Linked DNA regions of Homo sapiens: all the other regions are reported to be linked to region 1. Evidence: microRNA targets listed by miRTarBase, many of them from high-throughput screens and not tested one by one. Region 1 holds a microRNA gene; each other region holds the end of a gene's coding sequence.

The links. Region 1 holds the annotated microRNA hsa-miR-520c-5p (CUCUAGAGGGAAGCACUUUCUG, at 1,441-1,462, shown strand). A microRNA usually pairs through its seed, bases 2 to 8, with sites in the 3' UTR of a target mRNA and lowers its output. Matches are read on the target gene's strand: a 7mer-m8 pairs with bases 2 to 8, a 7mer-A1 pairs with bases 2 to 7 and ends in A, and an 8mer does both.
Region 2: the mRNA of TEF is a reported target of hsa-miR-520c-5p. The part of its 3' UTR that is shown has no 7-base or 8-base seed match.
Region 3: miRTarBase lists RANBP6 as a target of hsa-miR-520c-5p. The part of its 3' UTR that is shown has no 7-base or 8-base seed match.
Region 4: the mRNA of TJAP1 is a reported target of hsa-miR-520c-5p. Seed matches in the 3' UTR shown: 7mer-m8 at 1,939-1,945.
Region 5: the mRNA of NFATC3 is a reported target of hsa-miR-520c-5p. Seed matches in the 3' UTR shown: 7mer-A1 at 2,003-2,009.

What each region holds. Positions count from the first base shown.
Region 1 is chr19:53,704,826-53,708,403 of GRCh38, forward strand. MIR526A1 (microRNA 526a-1) reads left to right here and starts at 1,427; the gene lies at 1,427-1,511. MIR520C (microRNA 520c) reads left to right here and starts at 2,628; the gene lies at 2,628-2,714. It overlaps LOC107985346 (a long non-coding RNA gene), which reads left to right. Exons shown (of 5, transcript XR_001753998.1): 3 at 1-20; 4 at 2,260-2,382; 5 at 3,444-3,484.
Region 2 is chr22:41,395,315-41,398,892 of GRCh38, reverse strand. TEF (TEF transcription factor, PAR bZIP family member) reads right to left here. Exons shown (of 4, transcript NM_003216.4): 4 at 1-3,148. The coding sequence ends at 2,933. Among named protein-coding and RNA genes, the nearest start is that of TEF, 15 kb to the right of the region's middle.
Region 3 is chr9:6,009,449-6,013,026 of GRCh38, forward strand. RANBP6 (RAN binding protein 6) reads right to left here. Exons shown (of 1, transcript NM_012416.4): 1 at 1,577-3,578. The coding sequence ends at 2,842. Among named protein-coding and RNA genes, the nearest start is that of BRD10, 2.8 kb to the left of the region's middle.
Region 4 is chr6:43,504,841-43,508,418 of GRCh38, reverse strand. TJAP1 (tight junction associated protein 1) reads right to left here. Exons shown (of 11, transcript NM_001350562.2): 11 at 1,865-3,578. The coding sequence ends at 2,564. LRRC73 (leucine rich repeat containing 73) reads left to right here. Exons shown (of 6, transcript NM_001012974.4): 3 at 1-121; 4 at 493-593; 5 at 741-963; 6 at 1,111-1,451. The coding sequence ends at 1,181. Among named protein-coding and RNA genes, the nearest start is that of LRRC73, 3.7 kb to the left of the region's middle.
Region 5 is chr16:68,225,898-68,228,897 of GRCh38, reverse strand. NFATC3 (nuclear factor of activated T cells 3) reads right to left here. Exons shown (of 10, transcript NM_173165.3): 10 at 1-2,548. The coding sequence ends at 2,427. Among named protein-coding and RNA genes, the nearest start is that of MIR6773, 6.1 kb to the left of the region's middle. RefSeq lists an enhancer at 1,412-1,461.

The sequences.
Region 1 (3,578 bases):
CCTAGTATCTGGGACTACAGGTGAATATTTTAATCTATGCACAGGCAAGAAGAGGGCAAGGAGGGTTCTTTTGTTCTGTCTTTGACTTTGTGAGGCAGTGTCACTCTGTCACTCAAGCTGGAGTGCAATAATGTGATCTCGGCTCACTGCAACCTCTGCCTCCTGGGTTCAAGCAATTTTTTTTTTTTTTTTTTTTTGAGTCAGTATCTCACTCTGTCCCTCAGGGTGGAGTGCAGCGGCCCAGTCTCTGCTCCTGCAACTTCTGACTCCCAAGTAGGTACAATTGCAGACACGTGTCACCACGCTTGGCAAAATTTTTTTTGTATTTTTAGAGCTGGGATTTTACCTTGTTGGCGAGGCTGGTCTGGAACTCCTGACCTCAGGTGACTCGCCCACCTTGGCCTCCCAACAAGTTATGCTGATCTTGGTAATAACTTCGCAGAGCGTGCTTCCATCAGACATGGAGGATGGTGGGGTCCTGTTTTGTTGTTGTTGTTTTTCTAAGATAGGGTCTCTTGCCCAGGCTGGAGTGTGTTGGCACTTCCAACCTAGGTGTCTTGGGCTCAAATGGTCCTCTTTTTTCGGACAGTCTTGCTCTGTGACCCATGCTGGAGTGTAGTGACGTGATCTCAGCTCACTGCAACCTCCACCTCCCAGTTTTAGGCAGTTCTCCTGCCTCACATTCCTGAGTAGCTGGGATTATAGGTGCCTGACACCATGCCTGGCTAATATTTGCATGTTATTTATTCATGTATTTATTTGTTTTGAGATGGAGTCTCACTGTCACTCAGGCCAGAGGGCAGTGGCAGGACCTCGGCTCACTCAAACCTTTGCCTCTCAGGTTCAAGCAAGTCTTCTGCCTCAACCTCCTGAGTAGCTGGAATCACAGGCACCCGTCACCACGCCCGGTTACTTTTGTATTTTTTTTTTCACCATGTTGGCCAGGCTGGTCTGAAACCCCTGACTTCATGTGAGCCGCCCGCCTCAGCCACCCAAAGTGGTGGGATTACAGGCATAAGCCACTGCGCCCGGCCAACAATGTATATTTTTCAACATGGGAGATTCAGTTTTGAATGCTCCCATCGGGACTGTGTGTCCCTGTGCTGGAACTCAAGTGAACGCTTGGCTCAAAATCCATTGCTGTTCTCTAGAAATCCAGCCCAATTCTCTTGGTTAAATGTAAGGTATGTGTAGTAGGCAATGCTTTTTCTGGAGACAGAACTCAGGAGGATTGTCCCTCGATGATCTAGGCTAACCTGCTGAGACTTTGAAGCAAGGAACTGGAGATGGTCCTTTTAGGGTTTTATGTTCTGGATTCCAGAAAACATGCAAACAGGGCCAATAAATGCATCCTCATTTTTGTGTCCATTTTAACCTGGTGAAGGAAAATTCCAACAAAAAACCCACAGTGCTGGAGCAAGAAGAGCTCAGGCTGTGACCCTCTAGAGGGAAGCACTTTCTGTTGCTTGAAAGAAGAGAAAGCGCTTCCTTTTAGAGGATTACTCTTTGAGAAAAACAACATTGAAGTTAATGCTGATCTTGGAGATCATGCTTATAATCAGACTTGGATGATGTTGGGGTTTTGTGGGGTTTTTTTGGTTTTTTTTCCTAAGACAGGGTGTCTGTTGCCCAGGCTGGAGTATGGTGGCCCCTCCAACCTAGATCTCTTGGGTTCAAGTGGCCCTCTTTTTTGGGACAGAGTCTTGCTCTGTGACCCTGGCTGGAGCTCAGTATCAGGAACTTTGCTCACTGCAACCTCTGCCTCCCAGGTTCAAATGATTCTCCTGCCTCAGCCTCCCGAGCAGCTGGGATTACAGGCATATGCCACCACGCCCAGCTAATTTTTGTATTATTGTTATGTATTTATTTTTTAACTTATTCATTTTAGAGACAGAGTCTCACTCTGTCGCCCAGGCTGGAGTGCAGTGGTGCGATCTCGGCTCACTGCAACCTCCAACTCCCAGCTCAGCCTCCTGAATAGCTGTCTGCAGGCATACACCACCACACCTGGCTAACTTTTGGTTTTTTTGTACAGATGTGGTTTCCCCATGTTGCCCAGGTTGGTCTCGAACTCCTTAGCTCAGGTGATCTTCCACCTTGGCCTCCTAAAGTGCTAGGATTAGTGGTGTGAGCTGTTGTGCCCCACCTATACTCGTCTGTTTCTGCTCAGATTTTATTGAGGAGCGTTTACAGGGTAGCCTGTTGTCTACCCTGCAGGATGTTTGTGCCTACAACAGTGTATATTCTTCAACATCTTAGATTCCATTTCGGATGCCCCCATGAGGACTGTGCGCTCCTGTACTGGAACTCAAGCGACCACTTGGCTCAAAATCCATTGCTATTCTCTAGAAATCCAGCCCAATTCTCTTGGTTAAAGATAAGGTATGTGTAGTAGGCATTGCCTTTTCTCTTTGGGAACAAAACTCAGGAGGATTGCCCGTTGATGAACAAGGCTAACCTGCTGATTCTTTGAAGCAAAGAACTGCAGATGGTCCTTTTAGGGATTTATGCTCTGGATTCCAGAAAACATGCAAACAGGGCAAATAAATGCATCTTTATTTTTGCGTCCATTTTAACCTGGTCAAGGAAGATTCCCACAAAAAATCCACAGTGCCAGAGCAAGAAGATCTCAGGCTGTCGTCCTCTAGAGGGAAGCACTTTCTGTTGTCTGAAAGAAAAGAAAGTGCTTCCTTTTAGAGGGTTACCGTTTGAGAAAAGCAACATTGAAGTTGATGCTGATCTTGGTAATACATTTTCAGAGCATGCTTATCATCAGAGATGGATGATGGTGGGCTTCTGTTTTTGTTTTGATTTTTTCTTTTTTTTTTTTTTGAGATGGAGTTTCGTTCTTGCTGCCCAAGCACTAGTATGTAGGAATTATTCTTTATGTGAGCATATAGTACATGGAACTTTGTTTTTTTGAGACAGGGTCTCCAAAATATATACATGTTATCATATAATCTTCTATGTATAATTATATTCACACAAAATAGTCTTCTGCACACAGAGAATACTCTTATATCACTTTGGGGTTGTTTTTGTTTGTGTATTTTTTTTTTTTTTAATTTTTTTTGAGACACCATCTGGCTCTATTGCCCAGGCTGGAGTGCAGTGTTGTGACCTCAACTCACTGCAGCCTCTACCTCCCACCTCAGCCTCCTGAATTAGTGTCTACAGGCATGAACCACTACACCTGGCTATCTTTTGTATTTTTACAGATGAGGTTTTACTATGTTGGGCAGGCTAGTTTTGAACTCGAGCTCATGTAATTTTCCCGCCTTCGACTCCTAAAGTGCTGGGATTAGAGGTGTAAGCCACTGCACTCCACCCGTACTTCTGTACAAATGTTATTGAGGAGCTTTTACGGCCTAGGCAGTGCTCTATCCTGGAGAATGTTTGTGTGTAAGACAATGCATATTCTTTTTTTCTTTCCTGTCACCCAGGCTGGAGTGCATTGGCACGATCTCGTCTCACTGCAACCTCCGCCTCCCGGGTTCAAGCAATTCTCCTGCCTCAGCCTCCTGAGTAGCTGGGATTACAGGTGGGCACCACCACGCCTGGCAAATTTAGATTCCATT
Region 2 (3,578 bases), not on the chromosome of region 1:
CTCCTCGGCCCTTTGCGTTCCAAGGAGCACGGCTCCCGGGGCCCAGGTAGAGGGCTGCCCAGCTTCAGAGGGGTTTTCCCCCACTGGCTTGCATGCCTCCCGCCCTGCCTCAGGCCAAAGGACCGTAGGAGCGGCCTGCACAGCCCCTCAGCAGGGTTACATGTACCCAGACTTAAGGTTCACTGCTAAGTGCCCCCTCCAACCTCAGAAGCCAGACAGGAAAACCTCTTCCTTTGGCCAAGGGTAAGAGTTACCCAGGTCCTCCACAAAGTTGCCATAAACCTTGAAAACTCTCCCTCTCTCTAAATGCACACGTTCCTCCATCAGATGAGACATTTATAATATGAATATTCTTGCAAAGTTCCAGCTCATTCATGATTTGTCTGTTCTGAGGTTGCACTGAGGGTGCCACAAAGCTTTAGACAGGATGCTTAGGAAGTAGACGGCACTTCCAAGCCCATCGGGAACCCACAGAAAGCCAAGGTAAAGTCAACTTCTCTAGCCTCCAGTGACTGACAGATGTCAAAGATCCAAGCACAGGAGCCGCAGTCTCCAGCGGTCGGCCTCCAAGAAGCAGAGGGCCCAGGAGGGAGCCGAGGAGACTCCCATTCCCTCGACAGAAACTGAGCAGGCACCAACCCTCTCCTGCAAGCATGGATTTTTTTAGGACAGGAGAGGAGACAACCTTACCTGAGCACTTCTTTTCCCCCACAGGTCAGCCTCTGTGGACATCCTCCATCTTGTCCCCACCAGGCTCCTGACTCAGAGGGGCATTTCGAAAAGAGTCCAGCAGCCACACTCTTTCCAAGTAAGCACTTTGGGAAAGAACCCGATACCCACTGCCTGGGGGAAAGAAGGGAGGGCACCAAACAGGCAGAGGGCGGGATAAAGAGGAGACACATCGAGCCACCATCCCAGCCACCGGGCTCGGAACATGGACACCAGAGATTTAGTGTCCATCCTTAAAAAAATAAAACTGCAAAAACACAAACCATATACTTTCCGGCAAAGAAAATGAAGAGCTTTTAAGCTCAAGGCTCTTCCACTAATAACAAAATGAGAACCGCCCTCTTGGTGATCCACCAGGCCAGAGGGAGCGTGCCCGGGAGGGAGAGCTGCCCGGGGCAGGACACTGACATGCTGGATGCGCCTGCCCTGTGTGGTTACAATAGAGTGAAAGTGTGTACATGGTTTTTAGAGAACCACAAAGTAAAAGTCAGGGGCCTGGAGGGAGGAGTGACCTCCCTTGGCCTCAGGGCCCCTTGTCAAGTCCCCCGGAGAGGTGGGTGTGCAGGTCCCCAAAGGGCCGTGGCATTCCCCTGGGGTGAGGTCCACGGCTTGGTCTTAACGTCTGTTATGAAAAGTCTTTAGAGGTCAGGGCCTGGGACTCTGAACCACCACGGTAAATAAAGCCAGTGTTACGGAGGACGAAGCACGCCCATCGCCTCTGTCTCCTCTTCACCATAGGCTGCCCGCCCTGAGCAAATAAACACACCCATCTCAGGGGTGTCCCAGTGACCCAAATGAGCAGAGGCTTCCATGAGTTTCCTCAGTGAATCTTCTGAGCACAGCAAAAGGGCGAGTCCCGCCACACAAGAGAAAGGAGTCGTTGTGAGGCAGGGGAGACCACAGCTGTGAGAAGCCACAGCATGGCCAGCCTCACGAGTGGCCCCCATCTCCTGGGACCAAGACTGAGGGGACCCTAGGCCTGTGTAAAAGTCCCAAGAGCCTGCTATCCCGTGAAAGTGGCACTGTGACCTTGGTGACTCTAGACTAGGTGTCTTGCCCTGCTGACACCCTCCGGGCAGCTCGCATGGGAGAGATCCTGAAGCAAGAATTGCGAGGCCCCAGCTGCCCCCAGGGAGAGTGCACTCCAGCCCAGGCCACACCGGTGAGCAGAGCAAGAAAAAAGGGAGCTTCTCAAGAAACACACCCCAGCTCTCATGCCCATGGTGGAAGGGGGCTGTGGAGGCATTTTCTAAACACCACTAGGAAGGTGAATCCTGGGGTCCAGGAAGTTAAAGCCTCCTAGATAAGAGGGGTTTTCCTTTTAAATCTATGATCCAAGACTGGACATTGGGTGGAAAGAAAGAGCAGGCCCAGAGGCCTGGTCTAGTGGGACAAACGAGCTTCACATGGCCTCTGAGTAGCCTGGAGAGGAAATGAAGAGGCCTCTCTCAGCCCTGGCACTCATGGCTCAGACAGCAGCCATCCTAGGAGTCTCTCCTCCACAGCCAATGAAATGCAGAGACAGCCGATGGCCTCAGAGCCATAAGGGAAAAGGGGTGCGGGAGCCGAGAAACGCTGGGCACACTTCTGCTGCAGGCCCCAGCCCCAAGCCCCATCCCAGGCTGTGCAGAGACCCCACTCCTGCAGCCTGCTACCCATGCAGACACTGACGGAGGAGCTGGTGTGTCCTGCTTCCAAGGAAGATGGGAACAGATGTTACTCAAAGACTGTCTGGGGAGAATGAGGTGCGTGACAGACACACCTTAAGTGGAAACGCGCCCTGCTACCTGAGAAGACATAGGGTGACAATGATCACAACTCATTCTGCAGAGATAGCCCTCGGCAGCCCAGGCTGGAGACTGAGGGAGAGTCCAGGGACCCTGAGCGCCCAGGAGAGAGGTGTGTACTCCAGAGGTCCCCTTCTGATTCAACTGGGACATCCAAGAATAGAAACTAAGGCTGAGTCACCCATCTACGCAGATTCTCTTGCGTTCCCCACCAGTGAGGAGACTGGCCCCTCAGGGACGTCGCCACGTGCGCAGGCCATGGTATAATGAAGCTGAGACGTGGCCGCTCCTGCAGCAGGTGCGCCGCCATGCGCCCACGACGAGTCATAAGTCTCCACGCGTGTGAGGGGTTACAGGGAGCCCCCAGGCAGAGGTCTGAGGTGCAGGCAGTACCCCGCCCGGGCGGGGGGCACGGGTTACAAGGGCCCGTATTTGGTCTCATACTTGGACACGATGGTCTTGCACTTGCCCACCTCCTTGCGTAGCTCGGCCACCTCCGTCCGCAGGGCTGTGTTCTCCTTCTCCAGGAAGGCTGCCCGGATGGTGATCTGATTCTCTTTCAGGCGCCGGGCATCCCGTGACCGTTTAGCTGCCACGTTGTTCTTCTTGCGTCTTGTCCAGTACTTTTCATCCTGTGGGGAAGTGCCCTCTGTGAGTCTCTCGTCTTTCCCCACGAGAGAACCCAATTTTTCCACTCCCACCACCTGGATTCCCCTAACTCATCTGGTGTGGCCAGAGCTAAAGCAGGGATACCAGGGAGGGAGCAGCACAAACCAGGGCACATTGAGGGCACTGCCCTTTCCTCGGGGGCAGGACGAGAAACAAAAGTTATTTGGTACGTTACATGGTGAAGAGAAGGAGACTCATCTCCTGGAGGCCTGGTACCTGCTGCTCCAGCACAAAGCATTGCACTGTCCACACCCTTGCCTTACTTAGGCATGTTGGTTGTGGGTAAGGGCCTAGATCCCCGAGTTCAGATCTTGGCTCTCCAAGATTACTAGCAGTGAAACTGTGCAAGTACTTTAACCCCTCAATATCACAGGTCCCTTATCTTTACACTGA
Region 3 (3,578 bases), not on the chromosome of region 1:
AAATGATTAGGATACTCTGACTCTTGCAATTGTTTACTTCTCATTAATGTGAACTTTAAAGCAGTGATAAAATTTTTTTTTAACCTCAAAGCTGTTTTTGTCCAGTAAGTTAAGTATCACTCTTAAGTAAAATAGTGAAGCGGGAACGCTCTGTTAGGGTATTCACACTGTCCTCCACACATACCTTTTATCTAGTATTCGAGGTCTCCTCTCATCAGACATTTGTAATATATAACGCATTTACAGGGTTCTCTCCCCTCAGAGAAGAGTCTGTGGACTCTGAAGAGTCCACAGAACCTCAGCTCACAGAAAGAAAAATGCAGGGATCAGTCTTACTTCAGCACCTGGCAACCAAAACGTGTGTCTGACTAGACATTCCTCCTTTCTTTCGACAAAGCCCAGGAATCTGAAGCCCAACGTACCCAAGCAAACATCCTCTACTCCTCTTTAGTCATCAGCTCTATTTCATGACTCTTGGACAATATTAGCTTACATTATTGAACCCTGTGCCACTAAGCACTTTATATTCATTGTCTCCTTTAATCTCACAACAAGCCTATCAGCTAGGTATTAACCTTATTTTTCAGATGAGGAAACTGCCTCTTAGTTTAAGAAAGTTGTTAAACAAAGTTAAAATCTAGGTCTGTCATACTTCAAAAACTCCAGGTGCCTAATTCCAAGTCATCTGGCAGAATTTCTAATTCCTCATACATAAAAGTGTAGGGAATTGCTAGAAATGTTGATAAAGGGTTTCTTAATTAAGATTATATAAAAGAGAAAGGTGTGGGTGAGTAGAAGGAACCTCAACTCTAGGTTATGAAGAGGTCAAGATGATAGCAACTTAACTATAATGAAAGTAGGATCGGGTCCTTGATCTTAAAAAAGAAACTCTATTACACAAGAAATATGGGCTGGGCACGGTGGCTGACACCTGTAATCCCTGCACTTTGGGAGGCTGAGGTGGACAGATCACCTGAGGTCAGGAGTTCTAGACCAGCCTGGCTAACATGGTGAAACCCCGTTTCTACTAAGAATACAAAAAATTAGCTGGGAGTGGTGGTGCGCACCTGTAATCCCAGCTACTCGGGAAGCTGAGGCAGAATTGCTTGAACCTGGGAGGCGGAGGTTGCAGTGAGCCGAGATCGTGCCATTGCACTCCAGCTTGGGCAACAAGAGCAAAACTACATCTCAAAACAAACAAACAAAACAAGAAATATGTTGGTTGTAGGTATGTAGGTAAATTAGAAAATATAGGTAAGTGAGGAGAAAATTTGCCACTTAATCCTACCACCTAGAGAAAACCTCTATTAATACTTTGAGGTGGGATTTTTCTATTCATTCTTCTATACTTTATTTATCTTAAATATACTAAAAATTGTGATCATACTATACATAATGTCCTTAATTTTCCTTTTTCCCCCATTAGTAATAATTACATGGAATGGACAGAATTGCATATCTAAAATCTCAACTTTATATTCTTGTCAACAATAGCCTAAATAGCCTGCCAATATGAATGAGTAGGGAATGGATTGGGAAAATTCTAAAGTAAAAGAAGTTCCAGACACAATAGAGGTACAAACAACAACAGCAATAACAGCTACAATTTATTGAGCACTTACTAGGTCTTAAATATTTGCTAAATACATACACAGTACTCACAATAGCCCCAGGAAATTATAGATGTATTTAAGTTTTGGATCAATGAGTAATCGTTAGCTGAGTAGAAAGCTCTTTTCTACCCTACAATAAGCTCGACATTAAAGACTGACATTCCAATTAATATAATTAACCCTGGACTTATAGAACTGTTTTCTCATAATAATGCACATCTACTGCTAAATGACTACTCTCAAAGTTGTTTTCTTTTTCATGTTCAAAGAAAATTACATTTCTTTCCTTTCACTTTTCCAATAGAATACTCTTCAGTTCTACTCTAGAATCTCTTAGGAAATTATTTGAAATAGAAATCAATTTAAGCCCTATAACTAGAGCTTTTTCTCTTGTTGAGCTGCTTTGCAGGGAGAAAATGGCATACATATACAAAATAATACTCTGCTGAAACACATAACACTGACTCCCAAGAATACTGCTTACTTACTCTTTGTCAAACACTGTTACATGCTACCAATATTAGATGTATCAGGACTCCCTTTTCAGTAACTATGGTTCTTGGAGTCCTGGATAACTTAAAAAAATAGAGACCTGTCTGGCTAAAGAAATTTAAAAGTTCTCTAACTCTCAACCAGACACCTTGGGAACTACAATATGGATATGTCCTACCCAGTTCCCAGGAGTACATTATGAAGAAGTTCATATACATCCCACATCCACTGCAGTATCTCAAAACTCTCCTAGTAACAGCATCCTCCCATCACCACAAATACCAAGAGTATTAATTAAAGAGGGACAAGCCTGCCACTATATCCTTCACTCACAATTCCAAAGATGTTTGTCCTGGAAATTCTATCTTATTTTTGTGAGCTCTTAGCATATTGTGATAGCATGACATCTTCACATCAAGTATACTGCTTGGCTAGCATCAATAATAGTTCAAACAAATAGCAACAATTTATATACTTTACATCAACTAGGGGAAAGGTGACAAACATTGTTTAAGACAGTTTGAAGCACAGGTTATCACCAAGGTCTGTGTTTGGAAGATAAAACATGCGAGATAAACAGAGGACTAACACTGATTAATTCTGGAGAAACATGGAGAAGAACTATAAACTGCTTAGCAGGGAGAAAACAGTTCTCTGATTTATAATAAAATCTATTCACAACACTTATTTGTAGTTACTTTTATAATAGATAATATTCAAGTTATATTAAAGTGCTTCAAGCAAAATTTAGCAACTCCTGTAAGGCTTCCTGCTGTTCATCATCAAGTTGTGATACACATTCCAACCATAAATCTTCAGAAGTCTGTACCTGACGCACGACATTAGCTAGGCGTTTGGCACAAGGATCCTCATAGTTAATAGTCTCATTAATTTTTCCTTCTGCAATTATACTGATTATTTTGGGAAGATTGGAATTATTTGGACCAATTACAACTGGGTGGTTACTTTCAATTAGGTCACAGAGAAAACTCAAAGTCTGAATAGCTTCCTCTTTATCTTCATGCAGTGGAAGCCATGATAACCAGTGTGGAAGAACTTCATCTACATTTACACAGTTAGGCTTAAACTTCAAAATCTTCCCTATTGCTGAGATACAGTTCTCTGTAGCAATGACATTTTTTTTGGTTTTGGAATTTGCACACTTAATAACTTTTACCAGAAGTGGAACAGCTTCTGAACATAAAGAACGATAATCATCTCCACCAAACTGTGCCATGACACCCAGGCCATAAGCAGCAGCTTGCCTGACTTCAGGGTTGTTATCTCGCATATTTAGTAGCATTGGCCACCGAAAATATTCTACATATTTAAATGAAGTTGGACTGCAGTGCTCTATGATGTCATCAAATATGCACAATCCCCACTGTCTGTCTGGCCATGGCCTACTTGAACAAATTAGATTTACAATTAATGGAAGTAGTTGTTCAAACCATGGTAAAATCTTTTCCTTAT
Region 4 (3,578 bases), not on the chromosome of region 1:
TTGAAGGAGCTAACGCTGAGTGCCAACCCTGGCATCACCCCTAAGGGCTGGAGCCGCCTTGCCATTGCCGTGGCCCACAGCTCCCAGGTCCGCGTCCTCAATCTGGATTACAACCCCCTGGGTGAGGCTCAAGAATACCCCCTTGGGCTGTCACTGCCTCATGCCCTATCCAAGAGCCTGGGACCATCAGTTGACATGGTAACCCGTACACTGGGAGAGGGAAGAGAAACGGGAGCCCCCAGGGGTCAAGGAGATAGCTTTGTGGCGGACCAGGTGACCAACAAATAGATCAAAACATCAGTCACCACCCGTGGGCCTAACTTGCTTCGTGCCTTCACTCACCAATCACAATGATCCCTTCCTGACCACCACCAATTGTCCATGTTTCCTTGGCCAGGGATTAGTATCTAAAGTTGTTAAGGCAATGGGGAAGCTATCTGTAAGGATTAGCAGGCATGTGTATGAATGTGTGCACGTGTGTTGTCTCCCCAGGTGACCATGTGGCAGGAATGCTGGCTGTAGCTGTGGCCTCTAGTCGTACCCTAGAGGTCCTAGACTTGGAGGGCACAGGGCTCACCAACCAGTCAGCTCAGGTGGGAAGTCGTCATGTTTGGGCACGGCCAGGGGATGGGGTGGAGGTTAGTTTATGTGTCTGATGACATACCTAAGGCATGGCAGGTTGAGGTCTGAGGACCTGCCTTAACTGTGTTCATCCTTTTCCATATTCTTCCCCACTTCAGACCCTGCTGGACATGGTAGAAAATTACCCCACAGCTTTGCGGAGCCTGGTGTTGGCTGAGAACAGCATTAGCCCAGAGCTGCAGCAACAGATCTGTGACCTCCTCTCTGAGGGAGAGGAGGAGGAGGAAGTGGCAGGAGGGGCTGGCGACACCCAGGAATGGGAGAGAGGGCGGGAGCCTGCTGCCCACCAGAGAGGCAGCAGCTCCTGGATGTGCCCCAGCGGTAAGAACCCAGAGGGTTGATCAGAGCCAGGTCTGGAAGAGGCTCGGGACAAGGGAGAGTGGGTGTGCAGAACCTAGGCTCTCACCTATCTGTGGTCCCCATTGGAGGAAGGAATGGTGGTCTGAACACTTCTCTGCCCTTCCACAGATCCCAGCTCTCAGATGGTGCTAATGACGTCAGGACTAGGGGACAGTCTGTTGGCTGAGACCGAGATGTGACTCTCCACTGGGCCTCTGCACACCATTTCACTTATCTATGTCCCGAGCACCTTGCCCCAGATATCAGGGTCAGGCCCTGGGACTTGGGAGGGAACTGGGGTCAGGGGCTGCATGGGGGCTCTGGCAGCTCCTGGCAGTGTGGTGGGAAGGAAGCTCTGGAAGCTGTGACTGAGCAACAGCCTTGGGGGGCACTTGAACCCACGGCAATGCCTTTGAACTTGGCAGCTCTGGCTGCAACCCGCTGGCTCGGAAAAGATTTTATGAACTCCACAACCTGTCGTGTGGCTGTAGTCACTTGGGGCCGGCAGTAGGGGAGGAATTGGAACTACCAGTAAGCACCACTAGGGGGCAGTAGCATCGCACAGCCCAAGCTCTAAGCTGCGTGACCTGGTCCAGGATCTCAAAATAGGCCTGGCCAGGCCTAGAACCCAGGCCTCTGAGGCAACACCTTACACTAGCCCCATAAAGATATGGTCCCTGCCTCCGAGGGAAGACTCAGGAACCCTGCTAAGGTTACTTAAGGTGCCCCCTTTCCCGCTCCCTGATGCTCTGTGCCTAGGGAAACCCTAGGCAGAGTGGGGCGAGGGGGAGTCACTAGCCGACTAGGATGAGACTAGGACTGGGAATACTTATGAATGGGGAGAAAAGTGGGAGAGGGGAGGTCATTAAGACAAGTTAGGCCATACCAGTAAAATAGTTTTATTTGATTTTAAAATAGTCATCAATGTGAAAATTTCTCAAAGCTTAAGAGTAACAGTCTAGAGCCAAGGTTGGGAGTGGGGGCCAGGCCTCACACAGAGCCCAGCTTGAGGCCCCTGAGCCCCACCCTCCTTTCCAGAGGGAGGGAGGAGACAGCTGAGGGGGCCCTGAATCAGTCCTCTCCCTCGTCCCCAAGGCCAGCTGTGCCAGGCCCCTGGAGGGCAACAGCTCATGCGGAGGACTGGGGGGGGAAGCAAACAGGTAGGAAACGGAAATGAGGTTAACAATTACACCATCACCCCCAAAAAAAAACAAAATAACAAAACTTGTGACTATGAAAGGATGGAAGATGAATACTGATAAACTCCTCAGCTCCCCAGAAAAGCCCAGTCTGGGCTGGGTTGGGCTGATTGGAGGAAAGGTCTTGAGACCCAACTGCATGTTACCTCTGAAGAATAAATATTCTAAGAAAAAGGGAAAACCATGAGGCAAGCTGCTGCAGTCAGTCAACGCAGCTGACAGGCCTGGCATGGCCCACAACCTGACCCCATCCACACAGGAAACAGCTGTGCGGGTCTGGATAGAGGAGAGGTCAAGGGCTTGGACTGGGGACCCTGAGCTGCCAAGGTGTGGGGACTCCTTGCAGTCCTGGTGCAGCAATGGCAGGAAGGCCAGCAGGGGCCCTAGTTGAGCAGGTTGCCCTGCTCCTGGGCCTGGGTCAGGCTGTCCTTGCGGTGCAGGTGGTGAACCCCCATCCTCTTGGGGCTGCGCTGGGGGCGACTGGAGCTGGGGAGTGGCCAGGCCCTGCCCTCGGTGTGGGAAGTGCCTGGCCCCTCCTCTGTGCCCCTGTTAATGGGCAGCAGGCTCTGGCGCTCTTCCTCAGGACTGATAGGCAGGTTCAGCTCTTCTTCCTCCCTGGGAAAGCCAGAGTCAGGTTCTGTGGGTAGCAAAAGCTCACTCTCTTCGGGTCGGGCAGAAGGTGCCTGGACCACCTCATCTCTGTCAGCGGGGCTATGGGCAAAATGGCGCTGCAGCTCAGGGAGGGCATCGCGTCCAAAGGCTGTGCGCTGGGCCACAGCAGCAGGTGGTGGAGTACGGTCCACAAATGCCCGCTGCCAGCTGACCAGCAGGTCCTCTTCAGAGCTGGCAGAGCTAGCTGGGGCACTGAGTGTTAGGGGTGCTGGGCTGGGCTGGTGGTGGGGTGAGGCCTGGGCTGAGGCAGGGGTGCTGGGCACTGGGCTGGGGCGGGCCCGCTCACTCCCCTCCTCTACCAGGCTCAGGGAAATGGCCTGGCGGGTAGCGTAAGTGCAGTTGGGCAGGGGGCTGTTGCGGGGGATCCGAACCTTATCCTCAGAGAACTCTATTACCCTGCGGCCAGGATACAGTGGGTGTGGTGGAGACGGGGTTGGGTAGGGGTTCAGCTTCTCAAAGGCTGGCAGGGGCAGCTCTTCCTCCGGGGAGCCCCTGGCAGTACCCAGAGAGTGGCACTCCCCATTGGGTTGTGGGGTGGGGCTGCCAGGGGCCGGGGGACTGGCTGGATCACCTGGGACACCCTCACTCATGTCCACATGCACAAAGACATCCTCAGCCAAGGGGCGCCCGGCGCTGCCTGACTGGGCTGAATTGAGCAGTAGAGACTCCGGCTTCTCTAACACTCGGGCAATGACTGAGGTAGGCACCACAGCCCCTGGGGCTAGG
Region 5 (3,000 bases), not on the chromosome of region 1:
GACATGTTCTTTTTAAAGCTGTTTTCAGCCATGTTTCTCTGTGCATCTCCAGTAAGCAGAAGGCTACCCATTCCATTCCTCAACCCAAGAGCTAGCACAGTTAGAGTAGGAGGGGGTGCGTACTAGCACGTGCCCAGTTGCTCAGTGCTGCTAGTAGAAATTGATTTGCATAGTCCAATGGATGTGTGCTTTAACACCACTATGTTGCACAAAAATTTAAGTCTTTATCTACAAAGCCAAAAAATATTGACTCTTAACACCAAAGCTTTTACAAAGCTGATATAAAACTGCTTACATAGTATACAAAGCTCTATTTTAAAATTTAATGTTTATTTTAAATAGGAAAGCATTTCTAGTGCTACAGGCATCAAGGTATTTAGAAGGCATCAAAATTTGGTGCATAGCAACTCTGGATCATAGAGGCTTTTAATTCTTGAGGGCACAAAGGGTATTGCAAGGGGAACTCTTGCAATAACCTCATGTGAGGCAGCTACACCAGGGGCAAAAGGGTAGGGGCAAGTCTGGCCATTTCTCTGGAATGTCAACCGAGAGGCCAACTTCTTGCCCCTCCAAAGGAAGCTGTGGGCGTCCAACCACAGGCCCAGAAGCAAATCTCACTATCCACATTCTGTGACACAACTCACTTTTCAAGAAAATTTGAAAACACCCAGCTCCAAGAGGGGCCACAGTGATCTGCTGAAGAATAGACCTTTTTCTCTAACTAACTTTAGGGGAGAAATCTAAAATATATTTTGTTTTTTTTAAAGACCATACTTCCTCATCCTGAGTCAACAGCTCCTAACCTACTGACAACAGGTGGTGGGCAATAGGCCAGCTCCCTTTCCCAGACCTGAACTGGCCTTAGTAGAGAGAGTCCTGGCATCAAGGGCCTGCAGTCTCCTGGAATAACAGCATCAGGCCTTCAACCAGCACACTGTCTCACATATAGGCACTCAAAAAATCTGCTTCCTGAATCAATGGAAGTATATTATTTCATTTGAAAGCATACTGCAAACTTCAGAGGCTCTGTAATGGGCCCAGGAACAGGTAAAAAAAATCCCATTAGGGAGAGGGGTAAGGGCAGGTTTTTTTTTTTTTTAAAGTACCCAACTCGGGTACCTCCTTTGGTAGACAGCAGGCTGCAGTTTCTGCTGGGCCCTGCCTTGGACACCAGTCTCACCAGCAGCAGCACCAGGGTGTCTTTGGTGTGGAGGGTCAGGTTATCACTTCTGGATGTGCTCAGAGCCTTCTGGGGAAAAGGCTGGTTTTTAGATCATACAGACAGGACAGGGTAGGCCAGAATCATTTCAGGCTATAAATAGAATGGCAGATAAGCCTTCCATGCCAGTGTGACTCTTAAAACCTTCCCATCTGGAGTCCTGTATTTTCTCTGCCCATGCTGATGTACTGCTCATTTGTGCTTTAGCTCTGCACACAGCCTGGCCTCTAGCTAGAGTTAGAACTGCAAAGCTGCCTAAACCACTGAGACTGGCTTCAAAGGTCACAGAACAGCCAAAGGCAGATGCTTCTGTTTGGAAAAGGTTCTACGACCAGATGACACAAACAGGAAGCGCACTCCACAGCCTACTAGTTTTTATGATGGCAAGAAATGAAAGTGACCAAGCTAGAACCCCACCATTCAGAGTCACCTTAAATGTAGCCATCTTACCCAGGGTCCTGAGGGAAAAAGCAATTTCAACATGGAGCCAGTATGGAGAGATTGCAAGATTACCTAGAAAGTTACCAAAAGGCTATGCTCTGGAATGTCTTTTTATATTCCAACACTTCAATGATGGAATGGTCTCTTCTCATTTTATCTAACAACAGTTTAGTTTTATAAAGAGGTATGAGCTACATTTGGCTTTATTTCCTATAAATCTATGAACGTCTTCAGGACACATGCTGACTTTCTGAGGCATAGGTGTGGGCTTGGGATATTTTTTTCTTTTTCTTTTTTTCTTTTCTTTTTTTTTCTTTTTTTTTTTTTTTTTTTTTTTTTTGCTTCTAGAAGGTCTTATCAAAAGTTCCTATTTTAAAAATTATCATAAAAACTAAAGGGCCCTTCAAATGACCATAAAGCAGTACAAATCACCAATCCTAGCTAAGTAACCAGGTCACCTGCAAAAGCAGCACCTCGGAAACAAGAGAGCCTGCTGCATTCACACTCAAAGCACCCATCATATAAAAGTATCCTAGTTAAATATAAAAAGCAAAGTTCATTTCCCCAAAGCTCAAACAGCCTATGCTGCTCCTGTTCTTTTGCCAAATCTACCCAAGGCCTGAGGTGGAGGAATGCTACTTTCCCCACAAATGGTGGGTCCCACTCCTGGCCCCAGACCTGAAGGCTGCAGAGTTGGAAACCCAAGGTCCAAGGAGAGAAACATGCTGAGAAGTTGGTGGTGGACACAAGGCTGCAGTAAGCACTGTTAGAGCCCATCAGATCTTCCTAAATCCAGGGACTCAGGACTCGGGAGGGGAGCCTGCCTGCTCACCCCTGCTCCTTGGGAAACAGAAATCTGGGACATGTCTCTCCCAATTATCTCGTTCACTGAAAAACAAGAAAAGGGAGAGTGATTAGTGACCTCTGAGTGATTAGCCATATGATGCCCAACGCTGAGCTCTACCTCAGACATTTCCCTTCCCATGGCTTTCTGTAAAGATAAAGGCAGTGTCTGAAGCCTGCTCCTGAGCTGAGTGGCATTAGAGATGGAAACATCGCTCCACAAACTACTCTGGACCTCTTTTTCTCTCTCATTCAGTTCATTTTGGGTTGGGAAGGGGGCTTACCCTCACTCTAAAGGTATGTTTAAATAAGTATTCACCTTACTCTAACTTTTCTTTAATTCATATCTCTTTGAGAAAGTTTTTATTTTCTACAATGCCACCTCCTATGTAAATGGAATGAAAATAAATGCTTTGGTCAGAATAAACCACTGTGATGTGGGGGTGATTTTGCTACTGTATCCTAATACAAGCACTCTTTATTATGTGGGGGCATTT